Homo sapiens: one gene and its partners. The protein of the gene in region 3 purifies or fractionates together with the protein of the main gene of each other region. This does not show direct contact. Each region holds a gene or a part of one and is shown on either strand. Other genes may lie near its edges.

Region 1 (2,881 bases), on a different chromosome or scaffold from region 3:
GTATATATATATATATATATATATTTTTTTTTTTTTTTTAGTAGAGGTGGGGTTTCATCGTGTTGGCCAGGCTGGTCTTGAACTCCTGAGCTCAAGTGATCTGCCTGCCTCGGCCTCCCAAAGTGTTGGGATTACCGGCATGAGCCACCGCGCCCGGCCAATAAAATTTCTTTATCATGGGGGTGGAACTCAGCTCCTACGCTTATCCCACTTTCAACTGTTCTAAAGAGACCACAATTTAACAACATTTTCTGAAAGTCATGGAGTAAAATTAAGCCTAATTGTGAGAGTCTAGACCCAAAGACTCATTTTAAAATGTTCTAGAGCTCAGAGGTGATAAGGAATAAGAAGAAGACCTGGTTGTGTGGCTGTCCCATAAAAAAATCATTTCTATAAAGAAGGGAGAGGGCCTGGGCTGTGGAGGCTCAGCATTACCGCAGTCTCGGGATGACCGCCAGCCTAAGACAGACTGAATTAAGTGAAGTCCAGACAGCTTCAGAGCAAGACCGTCTGTCTCTCCTTTCCCCAAGATTTTCATTCAAGCCAAGTGATGAAACTGCTCTCTTCTTCCTTTTTCTGCACTAAAGTTGCTGCTTTCAAGGTGTTATGACTTTTGAAAGATGGGCTGAACTGCTAGAGGTGCTCAGAGAGACTAGAATAGAGTTCAAAATAGATGCCATTTAATTTTATATTTTACAAATATTTTATCACTCATAGGACACAGCTTGATAACCATCATAATATGTTTTTATTGATGAGTGAATGGATAGGTGTGTTTTTTTTAATCATCATAAGTTTATGTTTTGCATGGGCTCATTCTGTTCTCCTGGAAATCAGAAGAACAATAGGGTACACAATGATCCCATCTATCCCTGCCAAACCTTGGCCCTGTGATTTATCTACCATACCCCATGCTGAAAAATGTGCTCAGAAAACTCACATATTCTGAGAAATATTCTCAGAAAACTAAAAGTATAAACTTATTCTCAGAGACCAGGTAAGAAATGGGTTGTTTGGGGTCGTTTCATTCTAATCTCTAGTATAATGACTGAGTCTAAATTCTGGTTTTCATAGTTTTTTTTGGTTTGTGCATGTGCAGGTAGTCTGAGACAGACTATATTTGGATTTAAAAAGGATTTCTGTGTATCAAACAAGACAAGTCTGTAACCATAACGATAAGGGATCACCAGTTAATTCTAGACTGGATTCCCCAGAACTGGACTAATTAATGTGAGGACGTAAAATCCCAGTGTCTCGTATGTTTGGATATGTCAGAGACCAAGATGCTTTCTTCCCAATAAACAGTCAACTCATATGTTAGAGGTCTATTTAAATAATCCTTTGCTGGAAAGCCCCACAAACAGGTGTCCATACCACATACACCCCAGCTCTGGGCCCATGCCCCATCACTTCCCCAGGAATGAAAGACTATAAAGAGCAAAGGTTACAAAGCCCAGAACTGGCACTGTTTATACAGAAAGGGAGATCCATCAGTAGCATGACTCTTTAATCATTGTTATTTACAATTTATCATCTGACAGACTTACAGAGAATAAATAAAGAAAAGAAAATATACAATTGGTATCACGTTTCTTTTTCTAATACAGAGAAATTTTACATATTCTATTTGGAACGTCTATGATAGTTTTAAGCAGAAATTAAATCCATTTGCCCTTTACCCCTTGACAAGACACATCATCTTCCAAAGCCTGCAGAAGGGGGCCCAGATGTTTCCTCATCACAGGAAGAGTGCACCACATCGCTGCAGAAACTCAGTCCTCAGAAAAAGTTACCAGGCAACAAGGTAGAAGAATAGGATATCATGAATAATAAAGGACATATAATGGATAGGCTAGATTACAGACTCTTGGTGTGTTTGCAGGAAGCCAGCTTTCAATTGTGTCCAAGCCTGTTTTCAAGAAAACAGTTTTTCACTGAAAGTGATTACCTTATCCCATTGTGCTTCCCTTGAGTCTCTGCAAATTCTTCCTTGACATGTTCATTGTGATTGTGGATGAGCACAGGCTAGCTTGGGACTCAGATTATTTTCCTGCAAGGCACCTGACACTGTTGCATGTTGTTGACAAGGTGTCTGCAGGAGAAACTAGATAGCTTGTTTCAAATAGGCTGGGTATGAGGCCAGAGTCTGGTCTCTCCTTTTGATTCGGTGTCCTGTGGAGAACTACCTTTCATTGCTGTCTAAATGCCTCAAAAAATTAAGCAGTTCTATAGATCAATTTCTCCATCAAAAAGTATACAAACAGAGAATGCACTTCACCAGGAACAAGTCTGAGTAATTTTTTTCTCTTTCCTCACTTGAAAATAAACTCTCCATGTTACAAGCAAAACAATTCTCCCTACATTCACTCTAGTTAACTGGATGAGAAGTTTTTGTTTCTATCTTATGTTCATTCAAAAAAACAACATTCAGCAAATATTTATCAAGTGCTCACAATGACCTAGAAACTTAGTAAGACACACATTGTTATAATCTTGACCCCTTAAATAGGGGACTTAAAAATGTCAATCATAAAACTCAAAACTGTAATCCACAAAACTGGAGTTTCAACTTCTCCCCAGGTTGCCGCTGTGTTTGCAATTAATTTGGTCTAATGTGGTTGTTATTCCATTTAATAACGGCTATTTAGGCAAATAAAACCTCTCTACCACTCTGAAAATAGTATTTTATCAAACATTAGGAGTCTATACCATTGTATTCTATTCTCTCCACAAGCTATTTCCAGTGCCATTAACTAAGTGCCAACTAACTCTTGACTGAAATACTGGTTTACTCTAAACTCCTTATTTTGTCCCCAGTGCTAATCCTACTCACGTAGAAGCAGCAGGAAGCATCTAGAATATCCTGCTACCTGGTTTTCTA
Region 2 (3,660 bases), on a different chromosome or scaffold from region 3:
TGTAACTTGAAGACTGCCACTTGGCCACTTTGGGTTCCTCATGCCTCTGAATCAACAGGCGAAAACCAGTTACACAAACCCTGCTGGCTGGATTGACTGATTCTGAACACAAAGGGGAAATTGAAGGGAAAATTGGACTGTTATTCCACAATGGACGTAAGGAAGAGGATGTCTAGAATACAGGAGATTCCTTAGGGCATCTCTTAGTATTACCATGCCCTGTGAGTAAAGTCAATGGAAAACTACCACGACCCTATTAAAGCAGGACCACTTATAGCTCAGACCCTTCAGGAATAAAGGTTAGTTCACTCTACCAGGCACAGAGCCATGACCAGCTGAGGTGCTTAGTGAGGGCACAGGGAATACAGAATGCACAGCGAAAGAAGCTTCTTATAAATACCAGCTACAATGACATGACCAGCTATGGAAATAAGGACTGTAATCATTATAAGTATTTCTTCCTTATTGTGTTATGTGTGTGTGTTTATGTGTAAATATATGTTAAGCGAATATCTGTGTTTTCTTCCTTCTCTTATCCCCTTGTTATGTAACACAAGATATTTTGAATTTATATCATAGTATTTAAGTATTGTTCACTTTATAGTATTTATGTTCCAGGGTATCAAGGAAAGGAGTAAACACCACTCAAGAACTTTGCATCCTCTTCTGGAGAAAGGGTTAGTGCGTTTTCAGTTGTATACAGGATAGCTGTATTATGTTAGGTGGAAATATAATCTTATTATTTCCATTACTTGGAGATCAAGTATGGTTTAAAAGAATTTCAAATCTTTAAAAATTCTGTATTAGTCAGGGCTCTCTAGAGCAGGGGTCTCCAACATTTTTGCCACCAGGGACTGGTTTCCTGAAAGACAATTTTTCCACGGACTGGAGTTGGGGGCATGGGGATGGTTTCAGGATGATTCAAGCATGTTACATTTATTGTGCACTTTATTTCTATCACTATTATATGGTAACATATAATGAAATAATTATACAACTCACTATAACGTAGAATCAGTGGAAGCCCTGAGTTTATTTTCCTGCAACTAGATGGTCCTATCTGGGGGTGATGGGAGACAGTGACAGATCATCAGGCATTAGATTCTCATAAGGAGTGCGCAACCTAGATCTCTCAAATGTGGAGTTCACAATAGGGTTCACGCTCCTATGAAGTCTAATGCTGCCGCTGATTTGACGGCATGCAGAGCTCGGGCAGTAATGCTCACTCATCTACAGCCCACCTCCTGCTGTGTGGCCTGGTTCCTAACAGGCCACGGACCAGTACTGGTCCATGGCCTGGGGGTCAGGGGCCCCTGCTCTAGAGAGATAAAGATTTATCTTAAGGAATTGGTTCACATAACTGTGGAGGCTGGCAAATTCAAAAGGTACAGGATAGGCCAGCAGAGAAGAGTCACAGCTCAGGTCTGAAGGCTGCCTGCTGGCAGAACACCCTCTTTCTTGGTGGAGGTCAGTCTTTTTTCTATTGAGGCTTTCAACTGATTAGATGGGACCTGCCAACATTAAGGGGGTAATCTGCTTGACTCAAAGCCCACTGATTTAAATGTTAATCCCATCTAAAACCAACAACAAAACAACAACAACAAACACACCTTCACAGAAACATCTAGGATAATATTTGGCCAAGTATCTGGGTAACCAAGTTGACACATAAAATCAACCATCACAAGTCAACCTTGCTCCATACACATACATGTCCTTAAGATCGACGTCAGTGGTCACACAACGTGCAAGGATGTGATCTATGACAGCAACAATAGAAAGCTGGAGAGATGGAGTGGTACAGGAGCACAGTATTTGGATTGCAATGAAATTCTGCCGGTATTATAAAACTACCTGTTTAGATACTTAAGAAGGTAATTGTAATCTTCAAGGAAACCAGTAAGAAAATAAGTTTTAGGCTAGGTGCGTGGCTCATACCTGTAATCCCAACACTTTGGGAGGCCGAGGCAGGTGGATCACTTGAGGTCAGGAGTTTGAGACAGCCTGACCAACATGGTAAAACCCTGTCTCTGCTAAAAATCAAAAATTATCCAGGCATGGTGGCTACTCCCTGTACTCAGGAGGCTGAGGCAGGAAAATCGCTTAAACCCAGCAGCCATAGGCTGCAGTGAGCTGAGATCGCACCACTGCACTCCAGCCTGGGTGACAGAGCAGACCCTGTCTCAAAAAATATATATATATCTATATATATATTTAAGATATGTATCTTTAAGATATATACTAAGTATATATTTAAATATATATTTATTAAATATATATATAATATATATTTATTAAATATATATAATATATATTTAATAAATATATATACAAAATATATATTTATTAAATATATACAAAATATATATTTAATAAATATATATACAAAATATATATTTATTAAATATATATACAAAATATATATTTATTAAATATATATATACAAAATATATATTTATTAAATATATATACACAAAATATATATTTAAGAAAAACAGAAAATATATTTTAAAATATGCAGAAAAGAAAAGAAGTGAGTGAAAATGGTACATGCCAAGAAATAAACTAAAGTTTTTTCAAAAGGTGATAAGGGAGGAACAAAATATATATAAGACATAAAGAAAACAAATAACTGAAGAGCAGAAACAAATCTTTTCTTGTCAATAACTATGTTAATTGAAAATAGTTTAAACTCTGCAATTAAAAGGCAGAGAGTGGCAGAATGAGTAAAAACAAACGCAAAAAATAGACCATAATCACCTATATGCTAGCCACAAGATTCCTGAATTATTTTTATTAATATTGAAAGACATTCTAAAAAATCCAAATTACACAAACCTTACTTAATAATGTAAGTATCATACATAATCATAGTGATTCATGTCACTGATAAAAACGTGATTATTTAATAATAGTGTTGGGGCAACCAAAAAGGTGGCTGTCAAATAATAATGTGTCTTCCTCACTCTCCTCTTACTACAAAATGAAGTCCATGTGGCTCAATGACTTAATTACAAAATAGGAAACCACAAAATGACTGCAAAGATATATGATAATTTTTTTTTTGTTGTTTTTTTTTTTTGAGACAGGGTCTCACTCTGTCACCCAGGCTGAAGTGCAATGGCGTGATCTCAGCTCACTGCAACCTCTGCCTCCCGGGTTCAAGCGATTCTCCTGCCTCAGCCTCCCAAGTAGCTGGGACTACAGGCACGCCACTATACCCAGCTAATGTTTGTATTTTTAGTAGAAACAGGGTTTCGCCATGTTGGTCAGGCTGGTGTCAAACTCCTGGCCTCAAGTGATTTGCCCACCTTGGCCTCTCGAAGTGCTGGGATTACAGGTGTGAGTCACTGCGCCCGGCGTTATATGGGAATTTTTATTAGAATTTTGGACCCAGCGCAGTGGCTCACGCCTGTAATCCCAACACTTTGGAAGGCCGAGGTGAGAGGATCGCTTGAGCCCAAGTGGTTGAGGCTACAGTGAGCTATGATCCTGCCACCGCACTCCAGCCTGGGCAACAGAGTGAAATCCTATCTCAATCAGTCAATCAATCAATCAATCAATGTATAATTTCCCTAATCTGTAAGAATTCATGTGACTCAATGATTTAAAAAAAAAAAAAAAAAAAACCTAACCTCTTACTAGGAGTGAAGAAAACCT
Region 3 (3,660 bases):
TCACACCACTGCATTCCAGTCTGAGTGACAGAGCAAGAGACTCTGTCTCCAAAAAAAAAGAAAGAAAAGGGTATTTAAGCTCCAGTCATCTGGCCCTTTCTTCCATCTCATATTTTGTGTGGCTTCTGTACACATAATAAATATGTATTCATTTTCTCCTGTTAATCTCCTAATAATCTATTTTTTTTTTGGCGTACTCAAGTATCAAAATTTCAGAGGGAAAGTTTGAACTTCCCTGCAAGGTATTTTACCCAATTTCTAAATAACTTTGACTAAGCAAGCTCCAAAATAATTATATAAAAACTTCCTCAAATTTGCCAAACATACTCTTAATTTTCTGATTCTCCTCTGCCTAGACCCATGAACTAAATCAGTCATGGCTTCAAATACCACATCTTGCAAAATAGCTAACTAGGGTTCTTTTATGGGAGGCAGGTTATACTGAGACAAACACACACACACACAGTTAGCAGAAGGGAGACATGAAGCCTGGGGTGGTTGCTTTTTGAAGACTTTTGTTTTACTTTTTTAGTCTGTGTCTTGCTATCAGTTTCCCCTCCCAGTGTCTCATGTGCCTCTTCTGCTAAATGAGTGTTGCAAAATTTTAACAATATCACCCCCACAGGGAAAAAAATTAGATCTTGTAGGGTGGAGAAAATAAATCTTATATATCACAATGGTGTGTTGACTTCCAGATCGCAACACTACCCAACAAACTCCTATTTCTTGATACAGTTGGCCCTCGATGTCCACAGGTTTGGCATCCTCAGTTTCAACCACTCGCAAATTGAAAATTAAAAAAAAAATAAAAATAATACACAACAATAATAATACAGATAAAAACAATACAATATAACAACTATTTACATGGCATTTACGTTGTATATTAGGTGTTCTAAGTAATCTAGGGAAGATTTAAAGTATACTGGAGGAAGTGAGTAGGCTATGTGCAAATACTACACCATTTTATAAGGGACTTGAGCATCTGCAGATTTTGGAATCAAGGGGCTCTGGAACCAATCCCCCAAGGGTACTGAGGAACACCTGTATTTAGTTTTTCTTGGCCTGGCATTGTGGCTCATGCCTGTAATCCTAGAACTTTGGGAGGCCGAGGCAGGTGGATCACCTGAGGTTAGGAGTTTGAGACCAGCCTAGCCAACATGGCAAAACCCCGTCTCTACTAAAAATACAAAAATTCGGCCGGGCGTGGTGGCTCATGCCTGTAATCCCAGCACTTTGGGAGGCCAAGGCAGGCGGATCACAAGGTCAGGAGATCGAGACCATCCTGACTAACACGGTGAAACCCCATCTCTACTAAAAAATACAAAAAATTAGCCGGGCGTGGTGGCGGGCGCCTGTAGTCCCAGCTACTCAGGAGGCTGAGGCAGGAGAATGGCTTGAACTCAGGAGGTGGAGGTTGCAGTGAGCCACGATCGTGCCATTGCACTCCAGCCTGTGAGACAAGAGAGAAACTCTGTCTCAAAAAAATTCTTATAGAATTAAATTTTTTCCATAGGGGAATAATAATTGAAAAATAACAAGTTTAAAAAATAGTGGTTTTAAGTGAAAACTCCACTAGAATGTAACTTCCATGAGATTTATAGAGATTTATGGCAAAAGGATCTTTCTAACTACAATTACAGTTTAAGATTGCTGTGCACTTGTCATGTGCCAGGAACCATTCTCAGTGCTTTTTCTTTTTGTTCTTTTCCTTTTATTTTAGAGACAATGTCTCACTATGTTGCCCAGGCTGGTTTTGAACTCCTGGGCTCAAGCAATCCTCCTGCCTCAGCCTCCCAAAGTGCTGGGATTACAGACATGAGCCACTGCTCCTGGCTGGTGCTTTTTTTAATGGTTTTTTTGTTTGTTTGTTTTGTTTTGCTTTTTTGTTTTGTTTTTGTTTTTTTTTAAGAAATGGGGTCCCACCATGTTGTTCAGGCTAGTCTTGAACTCCTGGGCTCAAGCAATCCTCCTGCCTCACTCAGCCTCCCAAGTAGCTAGGATTACAGGCATAAGACCCCACACCCAGCTCCCATTCTTAGTGCTTTGTAGGTACCAATGCATTTAAACTTCATTTCCCTTCCCCCTTGAGGTAGATGGTATTACCATGTGACTTTTACAAATGAGGATTTGGGGAGACAAAGGGAAGTCGTGTGAAATCAAAATCATGTGACTTATGAAACTAGTGAACCCAGGCAATTTTGCTGTACATCCCTTGTCCCTTAGGAACAATCTCGAAATGACTTACTTTTGGCAATGATGACACCCAAAAGAGCAAGAAGCACCAAGACAGAAATACAGACTCCAGCATAGATTCCTTTAGTGGTATTGGCCGTCAGTAGACTATGTTCTAGGAACAGTTGCTGAGGAAACAACAACAGATCAAAAAAGCATCTTGTTAGAAAGTTATGAAGAGAAAACATTTCCCAGAATCACTTACCCAGCCACATTTACCTGTATTGGTGCTTGGGGACTTCTGGAACATAAGGGTAAGACCAAATGATCTCAGTTTATAACCATACGGTGAAAATCTAGGACAACTTGAAACGCAAAACATATTTTACAATGATGGAGGTGTTTTCTAGCTTGCTTGAGGTTGTATTTACATAGGTGTACACATTTGTCAAAACTAAAACTGTATGCTTAAAATGGGTTTGTATGTAAATTTTTTAATTTACTGTTTTAAAAGTCAATAGGCTATTTCCACAAATACATCCTCTTGTGATATTAAAAAAGAAAAAATGTCAGGCATGGTAGCTCACATCTCTAATCCCAGCACTTTGGGAGCCCAGGCATCCTGAGGTCAGGTGTTCGAGACCAGCCTGGGCAACATGGTGAAACCCCATCTCTACTAAAAATACAAAAATCAGCTGGGTGTGGTGCTGCACGCCTGTAATCCCAGCTACTTGGGAGGCGGAGGCAAAAAATTGCTTGAACCCGGGAGGTTGCAGTGAGCCAAGATTTCGCCATTGCACTCCAGCCTGGGCAACAGAGTGAGACTCCATCTCGAAAAAAAGAAAAAAAGAAAAAAAAATTGTTTATATAAATTGACTTGATGTGATGTTATCTTAATGTGCTCAGTTATTGAATTTTGTCCTTGGTTACAGTCCTTACTTGTCTTTTTACCTGTAATAGAAGATTCTGTCTCTATCTAAATAAATAGATTTGAGAGTAGCTGCACACAGACATGGCCATGATTAACAATTCAACGCTATGCAATCATGAAGAAATGTAAAATTGTTTAAGTCTTCTGGTGCCTATCACAAGAGATCATCACCTCCTGGAATAGGCCTGAAATGTGCCTGGCTTCCTGCTGGTCCCCATTTCATGGCTTAGTTCTAATCCTAAAGAGAGCCCACCGGGAAGGTATTTTAATAGAAGGAAGGGGGAGAATCTGAGTGAAGGACAAATCTTCTCATTTGTAAAATCTTAATCCCTGGAGTCAGAATCCCAGGTCTTCTACTTAGTCACTATGTGACCATGGACAAGCTATTTAGCCTCTCTGAATCTATTTCTATGTCTAGCAATAGACATAGACAGTAGATTCAATAGGGTTCTTTGCAAGGGTACTTTCAGGTCCTTCCTGATAAACACTATGAATATAGTGGAGTAACAGCATTTGAGCCATGCTTGCTTAGAAGCGGCATAGCCAGTGTCTGG

The links.
Region 1: the proteins of HAVCR1 (region 3) and DDR2 purify together in Homo sapiens (affinity purification with mass spectrometry, with the first as the bait; one large-scale study listed by BioGRID). This does not show direct contact.
Region 2: the proteins of HAVCR1 (region 3) and TNFRSF10B purify together in Homo sapiens (affinity purification with mass spectrometry, with the first as the bait; one large-scale study listed by BioGRID). This does not show direct contact.

The regions. Positions count from the first base shown.
Region 1 is NC_000001.11:162,785,183-162,788,063, reverse strand, and holds the end of DDR2 (discoidin domain-containing receptor 2 precursor), read right to left. Parts: 3' UTR 659-2,881; downstream 1-658. UniProt on the Homo sapiens protein: Tyrosine kinase involved in the regulation of tissues remodeling. It functions as a cell surface receptor for fibrillar collagen and regulates cell differentiation, remodeling of the extracellular matrix, cell migration and cell proliferation.
Region 2 is NC_000008.11:23,037,995-23,041,654, forward strand, and holds part of TNFRSF10B (tumor necrosis factor receptor superfamily member 10B isoform 1 precursor), read right to left. Parts: intron 1-3,660. UniProt on the Homo sapiens protein: Receptor for the cytotoxic ligand TNFSF10/TRAIL. The adapter molecule FADD recruits caspase-8 to the activated receptor.
Region 3 is NC_000005.10:157,034,999-157,038,658, forward strand, and holds part of HAVCR1 (hepatitis A virus cellular receptor 1 isoform a precursor), read right to left. Parts: intron 2,364-3,660; coding exon 2,249-2,363; intron 1-2,248. UniProt on the Homo sapiens protein: Phosphatidylserine receptor that plays an important functional role in regulatory B-cells homeostasis including generation, expansion and suppressor functions.